Homo sapiens: one gene and its partners. The protein of the gene in region 1 purifies or fractionates together with the protein of each later gene. This does not show direct contact. Each region holds a gene or a part of one and is shown in the gene's direction. Other genes may lie near its edges. The genes, in order: ATXN2L, LSM12, DDX6 and G3BP2.

Region 1 (4,766 bases):
AGAAGAAAGCCAGGACTAGGGTCTGGGTCAGACTGGACTGTGTGTGTTTCTCTCTTCCAGCTTCAGCCCAGTAGCTCCCCTGAGAACAGCCTGGATCCTTTTCCTCCCCGGATCTTAAAGGAGGAGCCCAAAGGAAAGGAGAAAGAGGTTGATGGTCTGTTGACTTCAGAGCCCATGGGGTCTCCCGTCTCCTCCAAGACAGAGTCCGTATCGGATAAGGAGGACAAACCACCCCTGGCACCATCAGGAGGCACTGAGGGGCCAGAGCAGCCCCCACCACCTTGTCCAAGCCAAACTGGCAGCCCCCCGGTGGGCCTCATCAAGGGAGAAGACAAAGATGAGGGCCCTGTTGCTGAGTGAGTGGAGCGGGGTGGGGCTCTGGGAGGATGGCAGGAGGGATGAGAGCAAGCCGTGAAGATTTACTGTACTTTCTCTCACAGACAAGTAAAGAAATCAACGTTGAACCCTAATGCTAAGGAGTTCAATCCTACAAAGCCTCTGCTGTCTGTGGTGAGCTGGGACAGGAGAATGTGGACTTTGGTTTCTGTGGGGAGACTTGGGCAGTGCTTATAGATGAATAGGGGGAGGAACACTTCACTTCCAGGACCACTTGCCTGGCAGGCAGTGTGAGGAGATGTCATAAAAATGTAAGGATGGCACCTTTGGGGCTGGCTTGGGGAAAATGGACTCAGGTCTCTAGGTTTGGGTGATCAGGGGATCAGGGATCCCAGTGAGTCTGATGAGGGGTTAACAGGCTTTTCTTTGGTTCTTGGCATTTGGCTGAGGGAGTATTGGAGTGGGGTAGTCATGAACAGAGGCCAGCTGACTTGGCTTGAGCCCCTGTATTTGGAAGGTTTGTGATCTTGGACGTCACTTACATTCTCTGCCTCACCTGTAACTTTAGAATACTCATCTCCTCATAGGGTTTAATGTGAGGCTTTATCAAGATAAGTGCAGAATATGTTTGGTATGCAGCATTTCACGAATGTTAATTATTACCACTCTAGGCATGGCCAGGAGTAGAGGGGAAAATACAAAATAAAATTGTCCTCCCTTGTTTTTGCAGAATAAATCCACCAGTACCCCAACTTCTCCGGGGCCCCGGACTCATTCAACTCCCTCCATCCCGGTGCTGACAGCAGGCCAGAGTGGGCTATACAGCCCCCAGTACATCTCCTACATACCTCAGATCCACATGGGACCAGCTGTGCAGGTATGCAGAGAGACTGGCCGGGCCCAGGGTTAGCGGGGTGGGATTTGGTTGCGCTGGTTGAGGGACCAGGTCAGGCCTGTCTGGGCATTCGTGAGCGAGTCATTCAGCCTCATCTGTGTCCTCATCCCCAGGCACCTCAGATGTATCCATATCCTGTATCCAATTCAGTGCCTGGGCAGCAGGGCAAGTACCGGGGAGCAAAAGGTGAGCAGGGCTGGGAGGGGCAGGCGGCGAGGCTGCCAAGGGCCTACTGGCAGGTGGAGCTTGAGCTCTCCTCTCCTCCTCCTCTTCCAGGCTCCCTTCCTCCGCAGCGCTCGGACCAACACCAGCCAGCCTCAGCCCCGCCGATGATGCAGGCCGCCGCGGCTGCTGGCCCGCCTCTGGTGGCTGCCACGCCCTATTCTTCCTACATCCCCTACAACCCTCAGCAGTTCCCAGGCCAGCCAGCCATGATGCAGCCCATGGCCCACTACCCCTCACAGGTGACTGCGGCCCAGGAGGGCAGTGAGGATCCAGGGCCCCTGCTAGGGATCCCATCTTCTCCAGAGACTTGGGAGCTGGCTAGGGGTGGCAGGCAGTGTTGTAGGTGGGATCGGCCCTCTGTGGTATTGGCGGTGTCAGACTTGGGCTTGAGCCCTGGCTCTGGTGGTACCTGTAACAAGGCATTGGACATCTGTATCTCTGAAGTGTAGAGAAAATAGTGTCTGCTGGGTGGGATCGTTATGAATGTTGAATCAATAGGGTGATTGTGAGGAGGCCCAAGCGGTGCTGTGCACGCAGTGACTGGCAGGAGGACACCTTCCCAGCTGGCGGCTGTGCCAACCACTCCTCTCTCTGTCCCGCCAGCCGGTGTTTGCCCCCATGCTTCAGAGCAACCCACGCATGCTGACGTCGGGCAGCCATCCCCAGGCCATCGTGTCATCCTCTACCCCTCAGTACCCTTCTGCAGAGCAGCCTACCCCCCAAGCCCTTTATGGTGAGTCCTGCGCCTGGTCCCTCTGCTCTGGGCTGTGTGCCAGCCCCCTCTGGTGTGCTCAGCACTGGTTCTCCCTCTTTCCTGCTGCAGCCACTGTTCACCAGTCCTACCCACACCATGCCACACAGCTCCATGCCCACCAGCCGCAGCCGGCTACCACGCCTACTGGAAGCCAGCCGCAGTCCCAGCATGCGGCCCCCAGTCCTGTCCAGGTGCCTGCCATGGGGGGTGCTGAGTGGTCCTGGTGCAGGAATGGGTGGCCAGAAGAAGGGATAGAGCTAGGGGTCATTTCTGAGTGGCGAGGACTGGGGGCCAGCGAGTTGCTGGCCTGTGTGGCACTCAACCTTCCCCTCCCCAGCAGCATCAGGCGGGGCAGGCCCCACACTTGGGCAGTGGACAGCCACAGCAGAATCTGTACCACCCAGGGGCCCTGACAGGCACGCCGCCCTCTCTGCCACCGGGACCTTCTGCCCAGTCCCCTCAGAGCAGCTTCCCCCAGCCAGCCGCTGTGTATGCCATCCACCACCAGCAGCTGCCCCACGGCTTCACCAACATGGCCCATGTTACCCAGGTAAGAGCCCAGCTGTCCCACTTCTGGGTCTGTTTGCCAGGGCCCGTCTGCCATGGGGACCATCCCATTGCCAAGTCCCTGGTGCCACCCTTGCCATAGTGCTCCCTAACTCTGGCTCTCAGAGTCTGTTTCAGGATTCTGTGGTCTTCCCGGCTACTTTTTTGTTTTCCACAGGCCCATGTCCAAACTGGAATCACAGCAGCCCCGCCCCCTCACCCTGGGGCTCCCCACCCGCCCCAGGTGATGCTGCTGCACCCACCCCAGAGTCATGGGGGGCCCCCCCAAGGCGCGGTGCCCCAGAGTGGGGTGCCTGCACTCTCAGCTTCCACACCCTCACCCTACCCCTACATCGGACACCCCCAAGGTGAGCAGCCTGGCCAGGCGCCTGGATTTCCAGGAGGAGCCGATGACAGGATTCGTGAGTTCTCATTAGCTGGGGGAATTTGGCATGGAAGAGCTGAGGGGCTGCAGGTGGGGCAGGATGCACGGGTTCTGGGTGGGGAGTGAGGGGTCTTGGAGGCAGGGCTGTCCCACAGGGCGCCCGCCGACCTGCACCTGTCTGTGAAGTATGTAGGGTGGGCAGAAGCCACAGTCGCCGCCGCCAGGGGCTTGCTCCTGGCTCTGTCCTTTGCTTCCCTCCGTCCTCGCTCAGTTGTGATCCAGCAGCCCCCCTCCCCACTGCCTCCCCAGCTCTCAGTGACCCCGACTGTCTCCTGACTTAGCCGAGGTAAGGTCAGTGCAGCAGACAGGGCCAGACTGGGGTGTGGGGGGCTGAGCTGGGCACATGAGTGAGGGCTCTGGCTTACTGGGAAACAGCGATTGACCTGTGCTTCTGACAGCCCCCGAGACACCTTGAGGAGGCCGCTCCTTCCCAGACACACCCCCACGCCCCCACTGGACGGCATTGGAGGAAGGGACAGCTGCTTGGGTTCTAATGCTCCTGCTCTCTTCTCTTTCCCCTCCAACCAGTTCAATCTCATCCCTCCCAGCAGCTCCCCTTCCACCCCCCGGGGAACTGAAGATTGTCCTGGCCGCGACCTGAGACCTCCATGAGTGGAGGGAAGAGTGATCTATGTCTCTTCCCCCAGCAGCTCGGACCACTCCCAGCCCCCCATCCCCCCGTTCCCCAGGGGAGCTGGGGAATTCCTGCCAAGCACCTTGAATGGGAGGGGCCTCACAGAGGGCAGGGCCAGGGTCCAGCAGGGGTGGGGGGTTCCTGCTCTGCCCCTGCCCGTCCCCACCCAGTCTTGCCCTCCCATCCTCTCATCTATTCCCCCGCTGGAGACGGAAGATCTTTTATTTTCTATTATTTATAACTTCAGACTTGGGCCCCCTGTTCTTTCTTTCCCATTAACTTGAGTGACCTGTGTGAGAGACAGACAGATGCCCCACGAGGATGGCTGGACAAGGACTTTTACTTTTTATTACATAAAAATATTAAAAAATAAATAAAAAAAATAAAATTTTAAACTAACTTAACCTGCCTGGAGTTTCCTCCTTGGAGACTAGAGTGGGGTGACAGCTGTCAGTCTTTTGTGGCATTGATAGGTGCTGCATTGTGACCTGTTCCTTCACCTCCATGTAAAAATCGTGTCCAGTGGCCAGCCATGGTGGCTCACGCCTGTAATCCCAGCACTTTGGGAGGCTGAGGTGGGCAGATCACCAGGTCAAGAGATGGAGACCATCCTGGCCAACTTGGTGAAACCCCATCTGTACTAAAAATACAAAAATTAGCCAGATGTGGTGGGACATGCCTGTAATTCCAGCTACTTGGGAGGCTGAGGCAGGAGAATCACTTGAACTCGGGTGAAACCCTGTCTCTACTAAAAATACAAAAATTAGCCTGGCGTGGTGGGACATGCCTGTAATCCCAGCTACCTGGGAGGCTGAGGCAGGAGAATCACTTAAACCCAGGAAGCGGAGGTTGCAGTGAGCTGAGATCACTCCATTGCACACCAATGGTGGCCAGTTTTTGAAATCTAGGATGATGGGGAGCCAGATCGGGA
Region 2 (6,926 bases), on another chromosome or scaffold:
CCTGCTCCGCTGATGCGAAGGCGGATATATAATCTCCAGGGCCGGGATTCTTTCCCCACCGGACCTCTCTTCTCCAGCACCAATACCCACCAAAAAAAAAAAAAAAAAAACAAACAGCAAAAAAATAAATAAATCTGAGATCCTTTGGAGAAAAGGCTGCAGACAGCCCCTCCTCCTGGGAGCTGAAGCGGGATCCTAAATTTGCATACACCCCTAATCAGTTCACTCCTTCCTCCCCAGCCTCAAGACTCCCCCTTTCTAATTCGCCTGCTATTAATCTGGAGGCTGACAGATAAGTCTCTTGATTTTGAGGGGTCTTCCCTAAAAAGGCGAATTCTCACATATAGCGCAAAGTCACACTTCCTTCCAGTTCTTCCCTTGCTTCCCCCACCCCCATCCTCCTGCCATCCAAAACCCTGCTTAGGCAGATGAAACCAAGAGATAGTAACAGTGTTGGTATGGGAAGAGGATTGGCACACACCCGCGACAGAGTTTGAAACAGTCATCTGGGGGAACTCACATAGAAAATAGAAATCTCAGCTATTCTAGGCGAGGTCCTGCCTAGAATACTGTTGAACAGTGTCTCCTTAGTTTCTTCCTACCTCAATCAACTTTGTTCTTGAAAAGTTTTTTTTTTTTTTTTTTTTTTGCCGGGCGCGGCGACTCACACCTGTAATCCCAGCACTTTGGGAGGCCGAGGCGGTCGGATCACAAGGTCAGGAGTTCCAGACCAGCCTGGCCAACATAGTTAAACCCCATCTCTACTAAAAATACAAAAATTAGCTGGGCGTGGGGGCACGCGCCTGTAGTCTCAGCTACTAGGGAGGCTGAAGCAGGAGAATCGCTTGAACCCGGGAGGCGGAGGTTGCGGTGAGCCGAGATGGGACCACTGCACTCCAGCCTGGGCGACAGGGCGAGACTCTATCTCAAAAAATAAAAAAAAATAAAAAATAAAAAAGGTGCTGGGCACAGTGGCTCACCCCTGTAATCCCAGCACTTTGGAAGGCCAGGGTGGGTGGATCACCTGAGGTCAGGAGTTGGAGACTAGTCTGACCAACGTGGAGAAACCAAACCGTGTCTCTACTAAAAACACAAAATTAGCTGGGTGTGGTGGCACATGCCTGTAATCCCAGCTACTCAGGAGGCTGAGAGAGGTGAATCGCTTGAGCCCAGGACGTGGAGGCTGTGGTGAGCCAAGATTGTGCCATTGCATTCCAGCTTGGGCAACAAGACAGAAATTCCGTCTCCAAAAAAAAAAAAAGGTGTAAAGGAGGGAAGCTGGATATAAATCTTCGTTTATTGCCTTTGTAGTGAACAGAATTTTTATTCCTATTACAATGATTATACCAATACCTCCAACACCAGGAAGTTTTTTTTTTTTTGAGACGGAGTCTCGCTCTGTCCCCCAGGATGGAGTGCAGTGGCGCGATCTCAGCTCACTGCAACCTCTGCCTCCTGGGTTCACGCCATTCTCCTGCCTCAGCCTCCCAAGTAGCTGGCACTACAGGCACCCACCACCACACCTGGCTAATTTTTAGTATTTTTAGTAGAGACGGGGTTTCACCATGTTAGCCAGGATGGTCTTGATCTCATGACCTCGTGATCCGCCCGCCTCGGTCTCCCAAAGTGCTGGGATTACAGGCGTGAGCCACTGTGCCCGGACAATACCAGGAAGTTTTTAATTGCCGAAGAGAAAGCCTACATTGTTTACCGAGTCTTTGAGGTTTGCCCTCAACCTTAAGCAGCCTACTCCCACACTCCGCTTTGTAATATTTCTGACCTATACATTCCTTGAAATCACCAAGTTCTCTCCTCTTAGGGGTCCTGGCCCGTGCAGTTCCCTCTGCCTGGAACATGGCCACTCTTTTTCCTTGCCAATCCTTCAGGTCTCAGTAGAGATTTTTCACTTCCTCCAAGAAGGCCTTTCCTAATGGCTCCTAGAAGTCTTATATGAAAACCTATAATCACGATTCCATATAAAAAGTGGAAAACTGGAATGGCAATTATGTATGATTTATTATGGGGGCCAGAACAAGGATGAGAGGCATGAAAGTTCTCTGAGGCCGGCCACATGGCTCACGCCCGTAATCCCAGCACTTTGAGAGGCCAGCCGAGGCGGGAAGATTGCTTGAGCCCAGGAGTTTGAGACCAGCCTGGCCAACATGGTGAAACCCCATCTGTACTAAAAGTACAAAAATTAGCCGGGCATGGTGGCTCGTGCCTGTAATTCCAGCTACTCCGGAAGCTGAGGCAGGAGAATCGCTTGAACCTGGGAGGTGCGGGTTGCAGTGAGCCAAGATGGCGCCACTGCACTCCAGTCTGGGTGACAGAGCGAGGCTCTATCTCAAAAAAAAAAAAAAAAAAGTTCTCTGAAAAAGCACACTATGAAGGAGCAGAATTTTTATTCCTATTATAATGAGTGTATCAATACTTCCAACACCAGGAAGTTTATGTTTCTTGGAGGGCAAGGAAATACTTTTGAACTTTGTTCAGGTTAAGCCGCGCCAAGACTGGCCCTTTGCTTCCCTCTGGACTAGAGAAAGGTCAACCTGTTTCTTATACATGAAGCGAGGATCCAAAATTTCTATAGTGAGCGGTGGGTGGGTTAGCGACAGCCATTGGTGGTAGTAGGGCTTGAAAATGCACGCTCATAGTCCTTTGCATAAGATTAAGAAAACGACTGTTTTGTACATCAGACGGACATTCAAGGGCAGGGGCGCAAAACCCCTCCTCCAAGCCCCTTTTTGTCACTATCCGCTGCTCCTCATTCCTGCCTTTTGCCTGGCTTTCTGGGAGAGAGGGCAAAAAGGGAGAAGGGGAAGTGTCTTGACTTCTAAGAGTGATGGGTGACTAAGGGGGAACTACCATTTATTAAAGACCTAGTACATGCCATGCACTTATACCCGTTACCGCATTTAAACCTCCTAACTATGAGGTAGGTATTATTATGTAACAGAGTATAGCAGTAAATAGCACCGTCCTTGGAAATAGGCAGACTGTTTTTGCTAGTTGTGGAACCGTGGACAAGTTTAGTCTAAAACTTAGTTTATGTAAAAGGAGGACATTGATTCCTACCTCAAAGGGCTGTTAGATGCTCAAGAAGTGACAATACAAATGCCTATGAAGAAACAGGATCAGGTAATTTGCTTGCTCAAGGTCAGGTGATTTAGTAAGAGGCTGACCTCGGATTCTGGTTCCAGCTTATCTAACTCCACAGCCAATGTTCTTTCCACTATCACTCAGTAGTTATAATCATCTTTTTTTGTTTGTTTGTTTGTTTTGAGACAGAGTCTCGCTCTGTTGCCCAGGCTAGAGTGCAGTGGCACAATCTTGGCTCAGTGCAACCTCCGCCTTCCAGGTTCAAGAGATCCTCCAGCCTCAGTCCCCCTAGTAGCTGGGATTACAGGCACGCGCCACCGTACCCGGCTAATTTTTGTATTTTTAGTAGAGACGGGGTTTCACCATGTTGGCCAGGCTGGTCTCGAACCCCTGACCTCAGGTGATCCACCCGCCTCGGCCTCCCAAAGTGCTGGGATTACAGGCGTGAGCCACCGCTCCCAGCCTTATAATCATCTTGTCCAAGTATCGTTAAGTCCTCTGAGGCTCTGATTCCTCATATGCAAAATGGGGTTAACATATTTTATAAAATTCATTCATTAAACTCTTGTGTGGAAGGTGTGCATATAATGGAGACTGCAGCTCCCTCCTCTTTCCCCTTTTCATTCCACGTAGGTCATTTATCCTTAACTTCTAAAATGGACTCTACAAGCACTTAACCGAGCGGACGCAGCTATACAAATACTTTTCAGATTCCCCTTTATTTCCTCTTCTTTCCCACTCCACCTAGGATCCCGCCCCAACCAGCGCCAGGCCACGCCCCGGCGTGTGACGCAAGCACGCTCCGTGCGCGCCGTCGCGTCGCGGCGCTCACTGGGGGCCCGGCTTTCGCCCGCTGCTGCCGCCGCCGCCGCCGGCCGCGGCTGCACTCCCAAGATGGCGGCTCCTCCGGGCGAGTACTTCAGCGTTGGGAGCCAGGTGTCGTGCCGGACGTGCCAGGAGCAGCGGCTGCAGGGCGAGGTGGTAGCCTTTGACTACCAATCCAAAATGCTGGCTTTAAGTATCCTTCCCTGCGTGAAGCCCGAGTCCGGGCCGGCGTGTAGGTGCGGTGGTCGGGGGGTGGGGGACGACGGCGGCGGCTGGGGCTCTCTCCGGGCCTAGGGGCGACCGGCTACCGCGGCGCCCGGGGCGCATGCGCACGGCCCTGAGCTCCCCTCCCCCTCCCGCGGGCCCTTCGGTCAGCTTTGGGGATCCTGTCTCTCTCTCTTTGCGGGAGCTGGGGCTTTACCGAGGATCAGTGGGTGGAGGAGGGCTTGACACGGGGATGGCTTTTTGGGGGGAACGTTATGAGAGGGGACACAGTAATTAGGAGAGGGGGTGGTGGTGGGAGGGGGCTGATGGATTGGAGCCCGGATGGAAAGGAGGGGCGGGTGAAATATTATGGGGAGGGGTGTTTAGGGTAAGGAACTGCTGGTAGGGCAAAGGTATGGAATTTAGGAGGGCATGTGCACTGATGGGATTTCGTCCAAGGAAGGGCGGTGGGATGGTGACCAAATTGGTCCTTGCCTGTTTTGGGGGAGAGTAAGTTCAGGGCAGAGTTTGTATCTGAGCTAGGGATAGTGGCTTGTTTCGCTGATGCGTGTGTATGTGTGGTGGGGGGGCTGTGCTGATTTTTAGGCTTCTCGGTCATTTGGAAGTTGCTGTTTAGGGGATGTTTGCACTGGAAACCTGTTCCAGAGAGGGCTTGCCAGGGGCTTATGTGGTTTGGGGATGTGTGAGTTACAGGTGAAAGAGTGAAGTTCTCATGCTGCCTTGATCAGTCCAGCACATGGAGTCCTTTTACGTAGTAGCAGCCTCCCTTTTGAAAGTAGCAATGTTAAACTGATTGGAAAAGGTGGCCTGCTTCTTTGGGGTGGAAGTGACTTCTGAATTACTCCAGGAAACTCAGTCTTGGAAATGAAACACTTCCTTGTTGGGATAAATGTGCCACGGCTTCCCTTTTTATGTGAGCCACAGGTGGGTTTATTGGAATTTTTTTTTGGAGGAGTAATTTTTTATGGCATCTTTTTTTTTTTTTTTTTTTTAAGATGGAGTCTCGCTCTGTCGCTAGGATGGAGTGCGGTGGCGCAATCTCGGCTCACTGCAACCTCCGACTCCCTGGTTCGAGCGATTCTCCTGCCTCAGCCTCCGGAGTAGCTGGGATTACGGGCACGCGCCACCACGCCCAGCTAATTTTTGTATATGTTTTTTTTTAACAGAGATGGGGTATCACCATGTTGGCCAGGATGGTCTCGAACTTCTGACCTCGTGATCCGCTGGCTTCAGCCTCCCAAAGTGCTGGGATTACAGGCCTGAGCCACCGCCCGGCTTTTTTTTTTGTTGTGTTTTTTGAGACGGAGTTTCACTCTTATTGCCCAGGCTGGAGTGCAATGGCGTGATTTCGGCTTACTGCAACTTCCGTCTCCCGGATTCAAGCGATTCTTCTGCCTCAGCCTCCCGAGTAGCTGGGATTGCAGGCATACGCCACCGTGCCCGGCTAATTTTTTGTATTTTTAGTAGAGACGGGGTTTCACCGTGTTAGCCAAGATGGTCTCGATCTCCTGACCTCGTGATCCACCCGCCTCGGCCTCCCAGAGTGCTGGGATTACCAGCGTGAGCCACCGCGCGGCCTAAGAATAGTTGCTTTTTTAAAAAAATAAGAGGTTACACCTGGAAGAAATAAGACCTTTTACATTAGTGGTTTAGTTGGAAGGGTCTTGTAACTAGGAATTACTTTTTTTTTTTTTTTTTTGAGACGGAGTCTCGCTCTGTCACCTAGGCTGGAGTGCAGTGGCACCATCTCGGCTCACTGCAACCTCCGCCTCCCGTGTTCAAGTGATTCTCCTGCCTCAGGCTCCAGAGTAGCTGGGATTACAGGCATGTGCCACCACACCCGGCTAATTTTTTTTTTTTTGGTAGTGACGGGGTTTTGCCACTTTGGCCAGGCTGGTCTTGAACTCCTGACCTCAAGTAATCTGCCCGCCTCAGCCTCCCAAAGTGTTGAGATTACAGGCGTGAGCCATCACGTGAGCCTGGCTGAATTACTCAACTTTTACTTGACATACAGTAGGCTCTTAAATGGTTGGAGAATGAGTTTGTGAATGAATGAATGGATTAACTGGCTGGGTCACCTTGGGTGAATTTCCTTTCCAGTGTGTAGTTTTCTCCTCTGCAAAATGGGAAAGCTCACATCTGAAAGAGTAAAAAGAATACTGTGCAGACACAGAGAGTATTATACGAAGAACAGAAAGGTCTAGCTCTTTTGTCTGGCTCATAGGTTCAAGACAAACGCATTAAATCTGCATTATGCCTCTCCATAAAGCCAGTAGAGAGAAAGTGACAGAACTCCTTTGGAAGCTTCCAAGGATTTGGGCAGGAGGAAGGTGACAGGCAGAGATTTCCTGAGGAGAACCGTGATTCTTATAAGGCCCTCATGCTCCTGGCCTGCCTTTTACAAGCCTTGTGTGAATCGTGTTTTCTATGCCCCTTTTGGGATGTGTCAGTGCCTCTGCTTGTCCTATTTTTCCTTAACTTTTTTTTTTCTCACCAGAATGTCCCTCTTCCAGTGGAAAGCCCAACCATGCAGACATCTTGCTCATAAACTTACAGTATGTTTCAGAAGTGGAAATAATTAATGACCGAACAGAAACCCCTCCTCCCCTAGCTTCACTCAATGTTAGTAAGGTAAGGACTCAAGGGCAGATCTGGCTCTCTAAAATGGTGGGAAAGATGAGTCTCATTGAGTCTTAGTGATACATTGTTGTCTATTTTTTATTTTTTAAAATTGACTTAAAATTGTTTGTTCTGATATCTTTTTAAAAAATGTAGGT
Region 3 (7,032 bases), on another chromosome or scaffold:
CTGTAATCCCAGCACTTCGGGAGGCCGAGGCAAGGCAGATCACCTGAGGTCAGGAGTTCAAGACCAGCCTCGCTAACATGGTAAAACCCTGTCTCTACTAAAAATACAAAAATTAGCTGGGTGTGGTGACATGTGCCTGTAGTCCCAGCTACTCAAGGAGGCTGAGGCAGGAGAATTGCTTGAACCTGGGAGGTGGAGGTTGCAGTCAGCCAAGATCATGTCACTGCACTCCAGCCTGGGTAACAGAGCGAGATCTGTCTCAAAACGAAGAAGCAGCAGCAGCAGAAGGCCAGGTGCAGTGACTCACACCTGTAATCCCAGCACTTTGGGAGGCCAAGGCAGGAGGATTGCTTGAGGTCAGGGGTTTGAGACCAGCTGGGCCAACATGATGAATCCCCGTCTCTACTAAAAATACAAAAAATTAGCTGGGTGTGGTGGCGGTTACTCAGTAGGCTGAGGCAGGAGAATTGCTTGAACCTGGGAGGCAGAGGTTGCAGTGGGCCGAGATGGCAGCCACTGCACTTCAGCCTGGACAACAGAGCAAGACTCCATCTCAAAAAAAAGAAGAGGAAGAGTTTAATATTTATATAATAGTATTGCTGAGGGAGAGTCTAAATCTGGGACACTATAATAGGTTCTCTTTTCATAAAGAGATTTGTACATTTGAGTTTTCATAATGTCCTGTGTAATGATTCAACTTTTTATTTTTATTTCTTAATTTTTTTGGCGGGGGAGACAGAGTCTTGCTGTGTCACCCATTCTGGAGTGTGGTGTCATGATCATAGCTTAATGCAGTCTTAATCTCCCAGGCTGATGTGATCCTCCTGCCTCAGCCTCCCCAGAAGCTGAGACTATAGGCACATGCCACCATTCCCAGCTAATTTTTTTCATTTTTTTTTTTAGTAGAGATGGGGTCTTGCTATGTTGCCCAGGCTGGTCTTAAACTCCTGAGCTCAAACGATCCTCCTGCCTCAGCCTCCAAAAGTGCTGGGATTCTAGGCATGAGTTACTCACTGTGCTGCCCAGCCCAATTTTTTAATACATCTCGGTATCTAGATTATAAGGGGCAGTGTTTCTTTTCTTTTTTTTTATTTGAGACGGAGTTTCGCTCTTGTTGCCTGGACTGGAGTGCAGTGGCACAATCTCGGCTCACCACAATCTCTGCCTCTCGGGTTCAAGCGATTCTTCTGCCTCAGCCTCCCAAGTAGCTGGGATTACAGGCATGTGCCACCCACGCCCAGCTAATTTTGTATTTTTAGTAGAGATAGGGTCAGGCTGGTCTCAAACTCCCGGCCTCAGGTGATCCACCCACCTTGGCCTCCCAAAGTGCTGGGCTTATAGGTAGGTGTGAGCCACCGTGCCTAGGCTATTTTTTTTTTCTTTCTTTCTTTTGAGACTGAGTCTCACTCTGTCGCCCAGGCTGGAGTGCAGTGGCGCGATCTTGCCTCACTGCAGCCTCTGCCTCCGGGTTCAAGTGATTCTCCTGCCTCAGCCTCCTGAGTAGGTGGGACTACAGGTGCGTGCCACCACGCCTGGATAATTTTTGTATTTTTAGTACAGATGGGGTTTCACCATGTTGGTCAGGCTGCTCTCGAACTCCTGACCTCAGGTGATCTGCCCACCTTGGCCTCCCAGAGTGCTGGGATTACAGGCGTGAGCCACTGCATCATAAGGTGCAGTTACAGGTGTGAGCCACTGCATCATAAGGCGCAGTATTTCTATAGCTTCTTAAATTTTGTAAATAATGATGTATAGCATGTTCTCCCACCTCACCCCATATTTTCTTATATATTCCTTGATACTGTTTCAGCAATGGTGATTGTTCCCACTAGAGAACTTGCTCTACAGGTCAGTCAAATTTGCATCCAGGTCAGCAAACACATGGGAGGGGCCAAAGTGATGGCAACCACAGGAGGAACCAATTTACGAGATGACATAATGAGGCTTGATGATACAGGTAAGAAATGATTACTAAAAGGTAGTGTAGCTCTCTGTTATTTTAGTCACAAGTATTTCAGTAAATTATTAAAAATTGTTTTTAAGAATTAAGGAACAGAAATACTGCAGTAAGAAAAGGAAATGACCACTGCATTCAAGCGAAAAAGACAAATTACCATAATTGAAAACGATATTTGACTTTATTAGTAATTGTAAAACAGCAAGTTTATAATAATTTTACCTGTTTAATTGGTAAAGCTAAAAGTATTAGTAGACGATAATGTGAGTTTGTGGACAAATAGGCTACATTGTAAATGTGGGGGTGTAAACTTACATCTCTATCATGGGCAATTTGGGAGTATATTTTAAAATTATAAATGTATATATAATGTGTGTGTGTGTGTGTATATTTTTTTTTTTTTTGGAGATGGAGTCTTGCTCTGTTGCCCAGGCTGGAGTGCAGAGGCGCAATCTTGACTCACTGCAATCTCCGCCTCCCAGGTTCAGGCCATTCTCCTGTCTCAGTCTCCTGAATAGCTGGGATTACAGGCTCCCGCTACCACGCCAGGCTAAATTTTTGTGTTTTTAGTAGAGACGGGGTTTCACCGTATTAGCCAGGATGGTCTCGATCTCCTGACCTCGTGATCCACCTGCCTCAGCCTCCCAAAGTGCTGGGATTACAGGCGTGAGCCACCGTGCCCGGCCATAAATGTATATTTTTAAGAATCTTTCCTGAAGAAAAAAGTTGGGTAAATGCAGGGCTGTAGGTACAAAGTTGTTTGCTATGGGGTGGTATTGTCGTGCCGAAAAATTGGCCAACTTAGAAGGAGATTGGCTAACTAAATACGTTAAGGTATAATCTGAATAGGATTCTACATAGTCATTAAAGAGTAAAGTTGACCTGTATTCATTTTCATGAAGAGGTTTCATGATACATTGCCGAGTGGAAAAAGGTAACAAAACAGCAAGAATGAGATCACTCATATAAAATTATATCTTGATTTTAGTTAGAATATTATATATGATAATTATGTGATACATTCTTTGTATTGCATAGGTTTTTAAAAAATTATCTTGTTTGATCCTTTTAACAATACTCGGCTCACTGCTCTAGATTAGAGGCATTGCTCTTATGTCAGAAGTCTGGTGTGCCTTCTGCTATTAATTGAGAATTATCCTAAGACAAGAAAGTATGCCTACTGTTGAAAGCAGCAGGTGATTTAGGAAGCTGTACCCCACCCAATGTAGAGGTGAAACAAATATTTTTTAAGCATCCTGTGGTGAAATGGAAGTCTTTATCCTAAAACACATCTTTGTGCCTTTTTGTGTTATTTCCACCTCTATAACACAATGTGTTTCTTCTCTTTCTTTCTTTTTTTTTTTTTTTTTAATTTGAGACACAGTCTTACTCTGTTGCTCTGGCTAGAGTGCAGTGGTGTGATCTCGGCTCACTGCAACGTCTGCCTCCTGGGTTCAAGCGATTCTCCTACCTCAGCCTCCTGAGTAGCTGGGATTACAGGCTCCCACCACCACACCCAGCTAATTTTTGTATTTTTAGTAGAGACAGGGTTTCACCGTGTTGGCCAGGCTGGTCTCGAACTCCTGACCTCATGTGATCCACCCACCTCGGCCTCCCAAAGTACTGGGATTACAGGGATGAGCTACTGCACCCGGCCTAGTTGTTTCTAATAAAAGATAGTCATGTGCTGCATACAATGTTGTGGTCAGTGACGGCTGCACGTATGTCGGTGTTCCCATAAGATTATAATGGAGCTATACAATGGAGTAGGCTATACCATCACATAGCAATGCATTTCTCAGAATTATCATTAAGCAGCTCAGGACTGTAATATTATAAACCTTTATCCTCTTTGCTCAAATTAAAATTAATGAGAATGTATGTTTTCTAAATCTTGCATAGTGCACGTGGTGATTGCTACCCCTGGGAGAATCCTGGATCTTATTAAGAAAGGAGTAGCAAAGGTTGATCATGTCCAGATGATAGTATTGGATGAGGTAATGTCTCTTCATTTGGCATTATACTGTTCTGTACTTTTCTGTGCTTTGCTTATAACTGCCAGTGAATGAAGCAAAAGCTGCTTGTGTTTATGATCTAATAAACACATAAACAATCAGTTTAAATTAATTTGCTTATAAAATGTGTTTTACCCGTCAGAGGGAGTAGATTATAGGCATTCATTGGAATTCAGCATTTTGTCTTTTTCTTAGAGATAGCAGACATTAGGTTTTAATTTTTTAGTAGAGGAGTGAATAACCTCAATGCCAAATTTATTCTAAGTCTCTTTCTGCTCTGTGATTAATTTTTAAAAGCATATAATATATATTGTCTCTTCTCATTTTGTGCATACTACTTTGTACTGTTTGGTTTTTAATCTCTGTTACATGTATTATCTCACCATGTTATAAATGCCTTTTAAAAACTTATTAAAATCTGTAGTCCTGGGATCTAGCCATGTTTTGTACATGTACAGATGGTCCCTGACTTAAGATGGTTCACTTTACAGTTTTTCAGTGGAAGTGATAAGCTTTCATTAGAAACTGTACTTTGAATTTTTAAGATTGATATTTTTCCTGGTTAGTAATATGCTATATGATACTCCCATGATGCTGGGCATCAGCAGCAAACTGCAGCTCCCAGTCAGCCACATGATGATTGAGGGCAGACAGCCGATACTCTACAGTATACGGCGTTGCAGGTGATTTTGCCCAACTGTAAGCTAAGGTAAGTGGAGCATGTTTAAAGGAGGCTAGGCTGAGCGATGATGTTCAGTAGGTTTGGGTAATATTTTCAACTTAGGATGAATTTATCAGAACATAATCCCATTGTAAGTCAAGGAGGATCTATAGTGATCAGCGTTGTTAATGTTTTGACATGAGGTTATTTTCACATTTGGGTTGAGGTTTATTATTATTATTATTATTTTTTTTTTTTTGAGACAGACTCACTCTGTCACCCAGACTGGAGTGCAGTGGCGTGATCTCGGCTCACTACAACCTCTGCCTCCCCGCTTCAAGTGATTCTTATGCCTCAGCCTTCTGAGTAGCTGAGATTACAATTATGTACCACCCACGCTCAGCTAATTCTTGTATTTTTAGTAGAGGCGCGGTTTTGCAATGTTGGCCAGGCTAGTCTCGAACTCCTGACCTCAGGTGATCCTACTGCCTCAGCCTCCCAAATTGCTGGGATTACAGGCATGAGCCACCACGCCCGGCCTGGTTTGTGTTTTAGGTAACATGATTTAATTCAAATCAGACTTTTATCTTTAAGTAATGAGAGAGAACATTTATTAATCACTGGGTACCAGCACTAAGTGCTTTACATGGTTTGTTTTTTTTTTTTTTTTTCCATTTAATTTTTACAAGAAACCTATAAGGTAGGTATCCTGTCAAGTAGTTACTATAGTATGTAGACATCCAACTTCTAATTTGCTTATAAAATACGTTTTATACTTCAGATGCAATAGATAGGCATTCATAGGAATTCAGCTTTTTGTCTTATAGATGCCAGAGTTTAGGTTTAATTTTTAAGAAGAGGAGTGGCTGGATAACTTGAAAGTCAAGTTTTTTCTTTTTTGTTTTGTTTTGTTTTGTTTTTGAGACAGAGTCTCGTTGCCCCGCTTGGAGTGCAGTGGTGCGATCTCAGCTCACCGCAACCTCCACCTCCCAAGTTCAAGCGATTCTCCTGCCTCAGCCCTCCCGAGTAGCTGGGATTACAGGCATGTGCCACCATGCCGGGCTAATTTTGTACTTTTAGCAGAGACAGGGTTTCTCCATGTTGGTCAGGCTGGTCTCAAACTCCCGACCTCAAGTGATCTGCCCACCTAAGCCTCCCAGAGTGCTGGGATTACAGGCGTGAGCCACCACACCTGGCCTTAGCCAAGTTTTTTCTAAATCCCGGTAAAGTAGTTACTACATTATGTAAACATCCAAATTTTAATAGTTTTACAATTTTAGAGTTGTGGAAACTGAAGTACAGAGTAGTTCTGTAACATTCCCACACAGCTGAGAAATGAAGGAGGCAAGATTTCAACCTGGCAGTTTAGCTCCAGAACCTGTACTTTTTTTTGAGACAGAGTCTTGCTCTGTTGCCCAGGCTGGAGTGCAGTGGTGCGATCTCAGCTCAACTGCAACCTCCATCTCCCAGGTTCAAGCAGTTCTTCTGCCTCAGCCTCCTGAGTAGTTGGAATTACAGGCGCTTGCCACTGTGCACAGCTAATTTTTGTATTTTTAGTAGAGACAGGGTTTCACCATATCAACCAGTCTTGTCTTGAACTCCTGACCTCAGGTGATCCGCCCGCCTGGTCCTCCCAAAGTGCTGGGATTACAGGCGTGAGCCACTGCACCCGGCCTCAGAACCCTTACTTTTTTTTTTTTTTTTTTTTTGAGACGGAGTAGTCTCGCCCTGTCGCCTAGGCTGGAGTGCAGTGGTGTGATCTTGGCTCACTGCAGCGTCCGCCTCCCAAGTTCAAGCGATTCTCCTGCCCCAGCCTCCCGAGTACCTGGGATTATAGGTGCGTACCACCACGTCCAGCTAATTTTTGTATTTTTAGTAGAGATGGGGTTTCACCATGTTGGTCAGGCTGGTCTCAAACTCTTGACCTCGTGATTCTCCCGCCTCGGCCTCCCAAAGTGCTGGGATTACAGGCGTGAGCCACCGCGCCCGGCCAGAACCCGTACTTTTAAACACTACACCATACTACCTCTTTAATGAGAATCATCACATTAAAATTCTGTTGTGGAGCTGGGCATGGAGGTATGTGCCTGTAGTCCTAGCTACTCAGTAGGCTCAGGCAAGAGGATCACTTGAGCCCAGGAAGTTCAGGCTGCAGTGAGATACGATTATGCCACTGCACTCCAGCTGGGTGACAGAGTGAAATGCTGTCTCTAAAAATAAATAAATTAATTAAATTCTGTTACAGAAAGCGGGGGAGGTTGTCTGTGTAGTGTAGAATTTTTTTTTTCCCCTAGAAGATGGGGATTATAGATTTTGCCCCCTTCTGCATATTTGACTCTCTGCAGTGTTGGAGAGAATTTATTGTTTTCCACCAGGAACATTTCATGGATGCTTTTGTT
Region 4 (7,032 bases), on another chromosome or scaffold:
ATCTTCTTTGTGAAGCTTTCATTCAATGGTGTACCACAAAAGATTGAAGGTCATTTCTTTAAAAAGGTATAGTGTTCCTTAGATTGTTTAAGTTACTTCAAACAAAAACCATCTGGAATTTCAGAAAGTTCCAGTATTAATATGCATTTAGCTGTTGGAAATGGATATAGTCCATGGTTCAATTAAAATAAATAAACCTGACTAGTTTGAGCCCAGCTATGAGTGAGGGACTCCAGAGGGGAAAGGGGTAAGTATCCTATAGTGGAGATAAGCTGTGTCTTAGCACCCACATAACCTTTGGTAACAGTATCTGGTAAAGAGAACTGCCTCCTATTACTAGAGGTCTTATTCTTTTTATAATAACTAATACCAAGTACTTACAACTCAGCTCACTGCAACCTCCGCCCCCGGGTTCAAGCGATTCTCCTGCTTCAGCCTCCTGAGTAGCTGGGATTACAGGCGCCCGCCACTGCACACGGCTAACTTTTTTGTGTTTTTAGTAGAGATGGGTTTTGCCATGTTGGTCAGGCTGGTCTCGAACTCCTGACCTCAGGTGATCCACCCATCTCGGCCTCCCGAAGTGCTAGAATTACAGGCGTGAGCCACTGCACCCGGCCTCTTTTTCCTTTTGTAGTTTCTGGTACATACATAGTAGCCATAAAATAAATGTTGAAATGAATTTATTTTGTATAACCCATTGACTCAGCTTGTGGATGGGAATGAATGAAGTAAGACAAAGGCGCAGAGAGTGAAATTGCAGAGAATAATATTAGGTGATTAAAATATTTGTATAGAATTTGATACAGGGATGAGAAAGTATAGTAGGAGATAAATTTGAAAGGTTGGTTATGACATTGAATGTCAGACTGGATTTCTGTGTAGGGCCTTAGATGCCAAACTGAATGCAGGTGTTTGGATTTTACTCAGTACAGTATATACTACACGTGATACAGGGGCTTGAAAGACTTTTGAAGAATAAAAGGTCTGAACAGTGGGAGTGAAAAGGAGGGCACAAATTCCACCTTCTGAATTGTAAGGATTTCACAGTTTAAGTGGCAAAGCTAAAGGGGAGAAAGTCACGACTGAGCTTTCAAGTTGAGAAGATTATGACACTTTTAACAGAAATAAGGAAATAGCTTTCTTTGGTGCATGCGTGTATTGGGACATATGTGGGTCATGTCTAGGTGTTCAGTATGTGGTGACAAATGTAAAATTTGAACTTATGGTATAGACTAGATACACGTTTAGGTAGACATGAGACCAGAAGCTGAAATTGCCAGGTTAGAAGACAGAACCTTGAGAAATTCTGCGTTTGGATGAGAAGGAAAATTTGCCTTATAGAACTCTAGAAGAGTTAGGAGGAGGTAGTCAACATTGATAATGCAGATGGGTGGAGGATTGAGAAGTCATTCGATTATTGAGAAGAATTGTGATGTTTCCAGAGAATTGCATTCAAAGGAGAGCTGAGTTATAATATTTGAGAGGGGAATAGAAGATGAAGACAGGTGTACAGTTAGTAATTTAGGGCAGAGCATGATCAATAAACTGCTATGATAAAGGCCAAAAGTGCTTTAAGAGTTAATAGAGAAGAGTTATATTCTGTTGAGGAATTCAGTAGGAGTAGAAAGATTTTCAAGGGGACAGGATTTCTGCTGGGCCCAGATAAATGCATAGGGTTTCAATCATTGCAGATAGGAAGGTGTGAGATGAGTATTGGAGGAGAAGTCAAAAGTCCTGCTTCTTGTTAACAGACTTTTAGGATCTTAGTGTTGGAATGGCCTAATCTTACTTTTTTGGATGTATGGACTCTACTATGTTTGTGCCAAACCATTCAGTTAGTCTCTGGAATACCTGTAGTGACTGGCTACTTGTTAAGTAGCTCTATTTGATATTTGGACAACTCGCGTTATTCTTGTGTTATGTTTCACCCAAATCTACCTTCTTATAATTTCCATTCACTATATTCAATTAGCAATCAACTCATTTTAGATATTACATCTAAATTAATGTAGCCTAAGATTGATTGTTTTGGAGGCAGCCCCATTATAGTAGTGATTCACTGAACTTTAAATGGTAAACAAAAAACCTAAATGTTTCTTACCTAAAAGGTGACGTTTTAGTCAAAGTTTGAGGAAAGGAGAGTGATAACTTTGGTTTTTACGTTATTTTGAAACTGAGGAAATATAAGTTCATTGTAGGATAATGAAGCTCAATGTGACTTTCTTTTCTAATCTGCATGTATGTCTACCAATGCTCCACTCCCTCTCAGTGTGTATTATCTACCAATACTCCACTCTCTCTCAATGTGTATAATTAATAGATTCAGAAAATATGGTGACAAATATAGAGCAATTTTCCGTGAGAGCTGAAGTGCATGTGCTTCAGGAATTAGGCAAATGCAGAGGAAACATTTTAAGAAACAGGAATGAATAAAATATTCTGATGAAGATTCACTGGGATTTTAGGTGCGATAGGCAGAGTTGGAGAGTAAAAAGCCTCTAAACTATACTGGATAATGTTTTCGGTTTTTTGTTTTTTGAGACAGAGTTTCGCTCTTGTTGCCCAGGCTGAAGTGCAAGGGTGTGATCTCAGCTTACTGCAACCTTTGCCTCTGAGTTCAAGCAATTCTGCTGCCTTAGCCTCCTGAGTAGCTGGGACTATAGGCGCGTACCACCAGGCCTGGCTAATTTTTTGTATTTTTAGTAGAGACGGGCTTTCACTGTGTTAGCCAGGATGGTCTCGATCTCCTGACCTTGTGATCCTCCTGCCATTGCCTCCCAAAGTGCTGGGAAGTAGGCATGAGCCACTGCGCCTGGCCTTGGATAATGTTTTCATTTGACAAGTAAAAGACGGATTTGTTCATGAGAGAGCTTTGACTGTGTATAGAGCTAATGTATCAGATAAAATTTTACACTGTGCATTCCTGTGTGAGATTCTTCACATTTTCAGGTGTCATTGGAAGAAGTGGAGTGTGATATATTGTATTTAACTTTTTCTAAAAAGGTTGTTAGGTGAGGCTAACAACCACCTTATTGAAGATGGTAGTTATCTTTGAAGGTGCTAATCTAAGAACTTTCTAAAGATTTCTTTTTGTGTATAAGTATCCTTTAATCTTGGCTATCTTTTTTTTTTTTTTTTTAAACAGTGTCTCACTCCTGTTACCCAGGTTTGAGTGCGGTGGTGCCATCTTGGCTCGCTGCAGCCTTGACTTCCCGGGCTCAGGCATTCCTCCCACCTCAGCTTCCCGAGTAGCTGGAGCTACGCTTGCACACTACCACGCCCCGCTAATTTTTTGTATTTTTTAGTAGAGACGGGGTTTTGCCATGTTGCCTGGGCTGGTCTCAAACACCTGAGCTCAAGCGATTCACCCACTTTGGCCTCCCAAAATATTGGGATTACAGGTGTGAGCCACTGCACCAGGCCTTCTTGGCTATCTTTGTAGAACTGTATAGTCTTGTAGGCTTGACCGGGGATTTCTTCTCAATTTGTAAACTAGGAAATCGAGATCCAGTAAGGTCATGAGTTTTTCATGGCCATGGATAAGATAGTTGAAACCTTTTACTCCCATATTCAGAATTTTGTTTCGTTTTGTTAACTTTTTTTAAGAAATGGAAGGTCCCAGATCTAGAAATGGATTACCTGTAAGATGATTTGCTATGAATAATAAAAATGGCACAATTCTTTCTTCTTGTAATCACTTTTATTCTGAAAGTGTAATTTGGCTTTTTTCCTTTTTCTCAACCTTCTTACGTACACTGCATGAATTATAAATACGAACTTTATATTACTTACTCAATTTTCATAGTCTTATTTCCTGCAATACCCAAACCACGTTGTTTGATGGTTGATCTCTAGTAGTCATTTTCTGGTTGATTTCTATCAATTATATTTTGGCTCTCTAAATTCTGAGTCACTTCAAATCGGAGTTATGGTTAAAGAAGTAACTGATGTAATTAGTTGAAACACTGTTCTCTCAGTAAATCTTGATTTTGTTTTACCATTCCTTTGGGAGCCTCCTCTGCACCTTAAAAGCTCAGCTTTCTATATAACCTGTTATATGCCTGTTTAGATTTTACCAGATTAGCATTGCCTTACTTATTTACCATTTGAAGTTAACTTTTCAAGTTACTGCCTTCCAATAGTTCTAAGTATTAATTTATTGAGTATTGATTAATCAAATATTACTTCTACTGCCCTTCCCTGTCTCTCTGTTCTAAATTGATGGTATGTTGGCCATTATACTTCAGTGACCATGTAGATAGTGGGCAATTTGAAGCTTTTTTTGAACCTTGTTACAACAAATCTTTAGAGCATTTTGACCTGTGATATTATATATGTATTATGTACCATTTTATTTTGGTTTGAGAAACAAATATGTAAGTGACAAAAATGATAGATCAGTATGTACTCTATGAATATGATGGGAAATTTGGGATAAATGACAACAGTGTTCCTGTAGAAAATCTGGAAATCCAGAGAGAAGAAAACAATTCCCAAACCCGGAAATTCCTAATAGTATTTCTGTCACTATCAATTTAAAGAAAACTATTTTGTGTATAGTTATTTTGTTCAGAGAGTAATGTAGTATTTTCCCATGTGTTAGTATTATTTTACCATCAGTTTTTATGGTGTTAAAATACATATAATTTCCATGTTTTAGTTATCTTGTTAAATTTTACCAGGTAAGTCTACTGTTCTTTACCCACCCTCATTATTCAAAATAAAAATGTTAGTTGCTTAGCTGTGTGTGTGTGTGTGTGTGTGTGTGTGTTTGTTTGTGTGTTTGTGTGTGTGTGTGTGTTTGTGTGTTTGTGACTACAGGTGTGCACCACCATGTCTGGCTAATTTTAGATGGGGTTTTGCCTTGTTGCCCAGGCTGGTCTTCAGCTCCTAAGCTCAAGCAGTCTGCCCACTTCGACGTCCCAAAGTGCTGGGATTACAGGCGTGAGCCACAGCCCAGTGCTTTGTTACTTTAAATGTAGCATATGTGAGTCCTTTTTGCACTAGGGTTGTTACCCTTATTGGGAGTTTTAAGTTTTCTGGAAAATCAATGACACCTGAAATGGCAGTATTTGGATCTGCTCTTTGTGAATTAACTATTTTTGAAAGCAAGTGAGGCATTATAAAAAATTTTAAACAGATTTGGGGATTTTTGTAAATCAAGTTTGAGAGTTTAAGAAGGACAGTTAGAGGAGGGATAGTTTGTTGGAAAGGAAGAAACAAGGAACCTAAAAACATAATGTAGAAGTTGAATTGTGAGTCACTAGAATTATGTAAAGCTACACTCTATCTGTAAGCTCTACTATAGTTGGTATTTGATTTTTATTAAAAACAGCATCACAATTTTAATGACCTATGCAGGGCTGTCTCTGAAATTGTTTTAGTTATTTAAAGTAAACACACATGGAAATTGACTTTTTATTTTTAATTTTTTGTATAGAGATGGGGTCTCTCTGTTGGCCAGGCTGGTCTTGAACTCCTGGCCTCAAGCTTTCCTGCCACCTCCACCTCCCAAAGTGCTGGGATTACAGGCATGATCCACTGTGCCAGCCTGCAGTGTTTTTTTGTCTGTTTGTTTTGAGACAGAGTCTTACTCAGTTGCCCAGGCTGGAGTGCAGTGGTGTGATCGCGGCTCACTGCAACCTTTGTCCCCCAGGTTAAAGTGATTTTTTGTGCCTCAGTCTCCTGAGTAGCTGAGATTACAGGTGTGTGCCATCAGCTCTGCTAATTATTTGTATTTTTAGTAGAGATGGGGTTTCACCATCTTGGTCAGGCTGGTCTCGAACTCCTGATCTCAAATGATCCTCCCAGCTCAACCTGAAGTTTAAGCAGGACTTTATTTATTTATTGAGATGGAGCCTCACTCTGTTGTTGCCCAGGCTGCAGTGCAGAGGCATGATCTTGGCCCACTACAAACTCTGCCTCCTGGGATCAAGCGATTCTCCTGCCTCAGCTTCCCAAGTAGCTGGGACTACAGGCGCCAGCCACCACGCCTGGCAAATTTTTGTATTTTACTAGAGAAGGGGTTTTACCATTTTGGCCAGGCTGGTCTCGAACTCCTGACCTCAGGCGATCTGCCCACCTTGGCCTCCTGAAGTGCTGGGATTACAGGCGTCAGCCACCGCACCTGGCTAAGCAGGAATTTCAACTGCATCCTGATTTACCCAGTAGATACATGCTTAGGAATTATGATTTTTTTTTTTTAGTACTTTTAAGTTTAATAGGTCTTTTTAAAATAAAACAGGTGGCTGGGCACGGTGGCTCACGCCTGTAATCCCAGCACTTTGGGAGGCTGAGGCAGGTGGATCACGAGGTCAGGAGTTCAAGACCAGTCTGGCTAACATGGTGAAACCCCGTCTCTACTAATAATACAAAAATTAGCCAGGTGTGGTGACACGTGCCTGTAGTCCCAGCTACTCGGGAGGCTGAGGCAAGAGAATTGCTCTGCCGGGAGGCAGAGGTTGCAGTGAGCCAAGATCGTACCACTGGACTCCAGCCTGGGCAACAGAGCAAGACTCCATCTCAAAAATAAAATAGGTTATATTTCATATTTTTATTTTTTATTTTTTTGAGACGAGTCTCGCTCTGTCGCCCAGGCTGGAGTGCACTGGCGCGATCTTGGTTCACTGCAACCTCCGCCTCCCGGGTTCAAGCAATTCTCTGCCTCAGCCTCCGGAGTGGCTGGGATTACAGGCACCCACCACCACACCTGGCTAATTTTTTTATTTTTAGTAGAGATGGGGTTTCACCATCTTGGCCAGGCTGGTCTTGAACTCCTGCCCTTGTGATCCACCCGCCTTGCCTCCCAAAGTGCTGGGATTACAGGTGTGAGCCACCGTACCTGGCCCTGGGGATTATATTCCTACAGTAAATGATAAGTTTTGTTTGTGGCTCACACCTGAAGTGAGAGGATCACTTGAGGCCAGGAGTTCGAGACCAGTCAGGGCATTGTAGCCAGACCTCGTCTCTGCTAAAAATAAAAATTAAAAAATTTAAAAAAATTAGCCAGGTGCATGCTTATAGTCCCAGCCA

The links.
Region 2: the proteins of ATXN2L (region 1) and LSM12 purify together in Homo sapiens (affinity purification with mass spectrometry; 4 studies listed by BioGRID and IntAct, with this or other methods). This does not show direct contact.
Region 3: the proteins of ATXN2L (region 1) and DDX6 purify together in Homo sapiens (affinity purification with mass spectrometry; 6 studies listed by BioGRID and IntAct, with this or other methods). This does not show direct contact.
Region 4: the proteins of ATXN2L (region 1) and G3BP2 purify together in Homo sapiens (affinity purification with mass spectrometry; 6 studies listed by BioGRID and IntAct, with this or other methods). This does not show direct contact.

The regions. Positions count from the first base shown.
Region 1 is NC_000016.10:28,832,999-28,837,764, forward strand, and holds the end of ATXN2L (ataxin-2-like protein), read left to right. Parts: intron 1-60; coding exon 61-356; intron 357-440; coding exon 441-510; intron 511-1,066; coding exon 1,067-1,213; intron 1,214-1,344; coding exon 1,345-1,417; intron 1,418-1,507; coding exon 1,508-1,695; intron 1,696-2,059; coding exon 2,060-2,189; intron 2,190-2,279; coding exon 2,280-2,401; intron 2,402-2,547; coding exon of another isoform or gene 2,548-2,550; coding exon 2,551-2,760; intron 2,761-2,934; coding exon 2,935-3,267; 3' UTR 3,268-3,327; coding exon of another isoform or gene 3,328-3,482; 3' UTR 3,483-3,729; coding exon of another isoform or gene 3,730-3,802; 3' UTR 3,803-4,234; downstream 4,235-4,766. UniProt on the Homo sapiens protein: Involved in the regulation of stress granule and P-body formation.
Region 2 is NC_000017.11:44,063,655-44,070,580, reverse strand, and holds the start of LSM12 (protein LSM12), read left to right. Parts: upstream 1-3,909; 5' UTR 3,910-3,993; coding exon 3,994-4,117; intron 4,118-6,646; coding exon 6,647-6,780; intron 6,781-6,926. UniProt on the Homo sapiens protein: Nicotinic acid adenine dinucleotide phosphate (NAADP) binding protein. Confers NAADP sensitivity to the two pore channel complex (TPCs) by acting as TPC accessory protein necessary for NAADP-evoked Ca(2+) release.
Region 3 is NC_000011.10:118,760,134-118,767,165, reverse strand, and holds part of DDX6 (probable ATP-dependent RNA helicase DDX6), read left to right. Parts: intron 1-1,810; coding exon 1,811-1,957; intron 1,958-3,859; coding exon 3,860-3,954; intron 3,955-7,032.
Region 4 is NC_000004.12:75,663,396-75,670,427, reverse strand, and holds part of G3BP2 (ras GTPase-activating protein-binding protein 2), read left to right. Parts: intron 1-7,032.